Regions from separate parts of the Homo sapiens genome. Here region 2 is linked to region 1. The links come from fine-mapping of genetic effects on gene expression. Tissue or cell type: left ventricle. Region 1 holds a variant in brackets; the other region holds the start of a gene. All regions are shown on one strand. Distances are from middle to middle.

Region 1 (2,683 bases):
ACTATGAAATTTGACTTTTCTAATTCTACTGCGAAATCACATAGTGAGTGTGTAAAAGTGATGGTGTGTGATCCTCTTCACAAATTTCTATTCCCTTCCTTATCTGTTGGGAGACATTAGACACATTCATTTGAAAAATTGTTCTTTTCAACCAGTTCTTTTATTTCCATACACCATTTAAAAAGTAATTCCCACTGCATCTACACAAAGTTAAAATATATTAATTTGCTTCAATATAGCATTTTCTTTATTGTGTGCCAGAAAAATATCACGGAAATTTTCCTGTACTGAAAAGCAAATACCGCTTTTCCACTTGGGCAGCCTCTCCCATCCAATCGTCATTCACATACACCTTCATCATTCACTGGGTTCTCACTGAGCACTCCCTCTTAGCCATGCAGGTGCTCACAGATGTACCCCAAAGAGGAGCGGCGTGCAAAGCAACATGTCTTCAAATTCAAAAGTGACAGTGGGTTTGAGGACAAGAGAGGGGAAGAAATCCAAATTTAGAGGAAGAGTAGCAAGTGGTAAGGCTTGGGCCCAGGAATGAGCCAAGCGCAGGCGGGGAGAATAAATAGATTAGCTCAGCAACAGAAGAGGAGCCCAGCCTTTGGAGACTACAAAGGGTCATAAGGAGGACACAATTATTAAAGTAATGCAGAAGCCACTGTAATTTCTCAAGCAGGAAACTGACAGTGACAAAAATGGTGCTTGGCCAGGTGCAGTGGCTCATATCTGTGATAAGTTAGCCAGGTGTGGTGGCTCACACCTGTAGTCGGGAGGCAGAGGTGGGAAGATTGCCTGAGACCAGGAGCTCAAGGCTGTAGTGAGCTGAGTTCATACCACTGTACTCTAGCCTGGGCAACAGAGCAAGACCCTGTCTCAAAAAAAAAAAAAAAAAAAAAAAAAAAAGCCAGGTGCTGTGGCTCATGTCTGTAGTCCCAGAACTTTGGGAGGCCAAGGCAGATTGATCGCTTGAGCCCACAAGTTCAAGACCATCCTGAGCAACATGCCAAAACCTCATCTCTACAAAACATAAAAAAAAAAAACATTAGCCAGGCGTGGTGGTGTGCCTATAGTCCCAGCTACTCAGGAGGCTTAGGTGGGAGAATCCTTTGAGCCTGAGGTGAAGGCTGCAGTGAACTGAGATCGTGCCACTGCACTCCAGCCTGGGCAACACAGTGACACCCTGTCTCAAACAATAAAAAATAAATGGTGCTTTAGGCAGCGTGTTCTGTGGTTTCCCGGCCATTGGAGGTAAAACACTCACTGGGGCTGGGTCACCATGGGGCAGGCAAAATGGACATTAAGGTCAGGGTCCAAGAAGATTCCACAGGAATCAAGAGGATGATGGTAGTGTCACCAATTCCAGAACAATTGAAAAGATGTGGTGCTCATTTGAGAAAATGGTTTGCATCTTTAGCCTGTGCACATGTGATTTTAGGCTAATTTTCACACGGCC[G/A]TCGAGAGACTTGAAAACCTCTAGGTATTTTCATGCTCCTAGAGTGAGGATGTTCTATGGGTGGGTAGAGGTGGGTTATCTGTGTGGGTTTTATGCACTCTTCTTTACAGAGAGGTGGTAGCTGAACCAGGTAAGGAGCTTTCTGTCCTTTCTGACATCTGTTTGCTTAATGATCTCTGCCTACACCCTGTAGAGTTTGAAAAGCAACGTACTAGAACCATGTTTCTTCTGACATACGCTGGCTGTACAATGCACACGCTTTCCGACAATATCCACATCAGACACCTCTCTGCTGATTCTAGGCTCCCAGACTGTGGCTTTTGATTTATCCTGTGAATTGCCTGAATTGCCAGCTCTGGCTAGGCTGGCTTCTGAGCACAGCTATCATCACTCAGGCTGCTGTTCTGTCGCGGCTCAGTCTGTTTTGTCCGTACCACACTGGTTGTCGAACTGTTGATTGGTAAGCTTGCACTTGACTTATGAGAACCAGCTCAAACTGCTTATGACCCTAAAAGAGATTCACTTAAAGAAGGTGCTATGACAATTAAGAATACATCAACACACACTTAGATTAAATATTTAGATAATGCATGCATTAAGCAAAGCACTGTTTTAGTTTGATGATAAAATCAGGATCAGCTAGTCACCTGATAACATTTCATAGCTGCTTAATTTATCAATGAAACTCACTGACTTCAATTTTCCAACCCTACACTTGTAAGAAAGACATTAATATTAAAGATTGTAGTGATACCCAGTAGAGGAGAAGACAGTAATAAATAATTAGCTCCTTTATGCTTCAGTTGCTTTCCTAAATTACTTATGAAACAGCAACAAATACTACTAGTGCCATTGGGAAAGCTGACATTATCCATTTCTTATTTAACAATGGAGTCATTAAAAAAGGAAAGAAAGAGGAAAAGGAGGCTGGGAGTGAGAAACTCATTGTATTTAATACAGATTCTGGTATCTTTTTTTTTTTTTGAGATGAAGTCTCATTCACTTACCCAGGCTGGAGTGCAGTGGTGCAATCTCCACTCACTGCAACCTCTGCTTCCCAGGTTCAAGCCATTCTCCGGCCTCAGCCTCCCAAGCAGCTGGGATTACAGGTGCCCACCACCATGCCTGGCTAATTTTTGTATTTTTTTAGAAGAGACGGGGTTTCAGCATGTTGGCCAGGCTGGTCTGGAACTCCTGACCTCAGGTGATTGGCCCACCTTG
Region 2 (2,683 bases), 28 kb before region 1:
AGAAGTGTACAAAATACCATTAGAGAGTGAAAAAAAAGGGAAGTCTGTTATAACTGAATAGGGGCGTGGTCTGCTCAGGCTAAAAGGAATAGATAGTAGTTTCATAAAGGACTGATATAACTGTAGAGTCTTCAGAACTGGCCACTACAGCCAGCACATTTTCTCTACAGACGTAAGTATGTCTATTAATACCAGCCAGCTTGGTGAGTTAGAGAAACCACAGCCTGTGGATTTGGGCACATGCACTCTCTGCCTGCATCTAATCCTTCGGGTAACCATATACCTACAACTCCTGTAATCCTAGAGCAGTTACATGGATGCACTAAGTGGTGTGATGGGAGGGAAAGATAGCATCACAAGGATTCGTTTGATTGTAACAGTAATCCACACCAAGTCAAATAAAATAGCCAAACAGTTTAGAATGTGGTCTCTAATGAATTTGCTAATTCTACCAGGGCCTCACAAACATTTCCTGCTAGAGTACCCCATATCAAACCAAGTGGCTGTTCTTTAATTACATGGAATAATTATTTGATTTCCAGGAAGTTAAGACAGTGCTTTGTATTTAAATAAAAAGTTCTAGACATGCTGTGAAACTCGATCAAACCAAGAAAAAGGGTGAAACTGAATGCCTGCTCACTGACTCAAGATTTCAGCTGCTCAGCGAGCCTGACGTGACGGCTTATGAGCCCAGAAAAGGGGTATTTTAAACCCGGCTGGCTGGATCATGTCACTTTCTTATAGAAGCCCTGCCTTTCCAGAGACCTAAAGTGTAACGCAATCAGAGACCTTTGAGGGGCTCGAGGCTCGGCGGCTTCCGCCCCTCAGCACCAGCAGAGACCCCAGTTTTCAGGGGACATGATCCCATAGTGTCGCCCTCACTTTTGAAGGGCCATTAAAAGCCTGGGGCCTCTTATCTCAACGGCTTTGGGCGTGAATGTGGGGCAAGAAGGGGGGGGGAGACCTGTGGGTGTCTCTTTTGCCTGAGGAGTTGGAGACACTTGTGGAAAAGTCAGGCCCTTTTCGCTCCGGCGGCCGCTCCGGTGTGGGGCTGGCTTGGGTTAGACACATGCACACATACACCATAGAGCTCTGCTTTCCCGTAGCAGCTGCTGCCTCTGCCTCTGCCTCTCCCGCCTCAGCCTCTTTGCCCGGCATACACACACATTCAGATTTGCGCGCTGTTTCAATCCTTGATGACGTGTCCCCGGAGACAGCCAATAGCAAACGGGCTCTGGTCAGGACAATGGGAGGTATCGGGCCAATGAGCGAGCCCCGTGAGTTGGCGGTAGCCAATAGGAGCCGCGCTGGCTGGAGAGTAATGTTACAGAGCGGAGAGAGTGAGGAGGCTGCGTCTGGCTCCCGCTCTCACAGCCATTGCAGTACATTGAGCTCCATAGAGACAGCACCGGGGCAAGTGAGAGCCGGACGGGCACTGGGCGACTCTGTGCCTCGCTGAGGGTGAGTCTGGGGCAGCGCCGCGGCGGGGAGAGCGCCTCCGGCAGCTCCCCAGCCCGCGCGGCGGCCGGATCCCCGCGGCCGGGAGCCGGCGGGTCAGGATCCACACAAAGGCAAATGAGGGGGGACCGTGGGGGGAACTGCGCACGGAGCGAGCCTCTGCCCGGGCGCCGGGAACGCTGCCCCGCGCCGGTGCCCCGGCCCTCAGGCAGCCTGAGGCGCCGGGAGCCCCGCGCCCCGCGAGTTTCCACCCCCGGCGGCGTCCGCGCTGACTGGCGCAAAAAAAAAAATTTTTTTTTTAATTAAAAAAATTTTGAACGTGTTTTGGGCCCTCGGGCCGGGCGTTCGGGCGGGCGGCGTGCGCGGAGCGCGGCCGGGGCGGCGGGGCCGGCGCGGCTCGGCGGCGGCGGCGGGAGGGCAGCGGCGGCGCTTCCCCGGGCTGCATTGGCCGCCGCCGCAGCGAGCCGGGCGCTGGCGGGGAGCGCGGCCAGCCGGGCGGGCGGCGGGGCGGGCGGGGCGCCGCGGCGGGCGAGGGCGGCGCGGGGGCCTGGGGGCGGCAGTGCGGGCCCGGCCGGCCTCGGCCCGGTCGCGGCGGCGGCGGCGGCCGGGCGGCGGGGGGAGCGGCGCCGCTGCGCTCGCTGGAACATGGCTGACTCGGGCCCGGCGCTGCTGGCTGGAGAGAAAACAAGGCGGGCGGGCGGGGGAGCTGGGCGCAGCAGTTCCGAGGCAACTTTTTTTTTCCTCTCTCTTTTCACAGCCCCGCGTTCTCCGTGCGGGGGCGGCGGGGCGCGCGGCCCGCGCGGAGGGAGACGGGGAGTGGCGGGCGGGTGGGCCCTCGGGCGGCCCCCACCGCGGCGGGGGGAGGGGAGCGGCGCGGAGGGGAGGGCCCGGCCGCGCGCCCCCCGCCCCTCCCCCGGCCGTAATGGCCGAGTGTGTGCGCCAGAGCGCGGCTCGCACCCCGCCCGCCGCCGCCGCCGCGCCCGCACCCTCGCACTCACACACTCTCTCATACACACACACACACACACACACACACAAAGGGAAGGAGCCATATTCTCGCTCGCGCTCGCCCTCGCGGCGGCGGCGGCGCAGGCGGAGAAGACGCGCAGCGGCCATTCCGTGCGCGCCGGCCCCGGCGGCCGCGGGCGGAGCCAGCCCCCATTTCGAGCGGGGCTTCTCCCTGCGCCGAGCCTGACAAAATGGGGGCGGCGGCGGCGCGGGCCTG

Evidence for each region. PIP is the estimated chance that this variant, and not a neighbour inherited with it, causes the effect.
Region 2: HMGB1 starts here. The variant in region 1 is fine-mapped to the expression of HMGB1 in left ventricle (GTEx, PIP above 0.99).

What each region holds. Positions count from the first base shown.
Region 1 is chr13:30,436,515-30,439,197 of GRCh38, reverse strand. No RefSeq gene overlaps it. Among named protein-coding and RNA genes, the nearest start is that of UBE2L5, 15 kb to the right of the region's middle. The variant G/A (reference allele first, on the strand shown) is at 1,463.
Region 2 is chr13:30,464,574-30,467,256 of GRCh38, reverse strand. It overlaps HMGB1 (high mobility group box 1), which reads left to right and starts at 1,321. Exons shown (of 5, transcript NM_002128.7): 1 at 1,321-1,461. RefSeq lists enhancers at 362-1,137, 1,138-1,913 and silencers at 1,349-1,658, 2,258-2,683.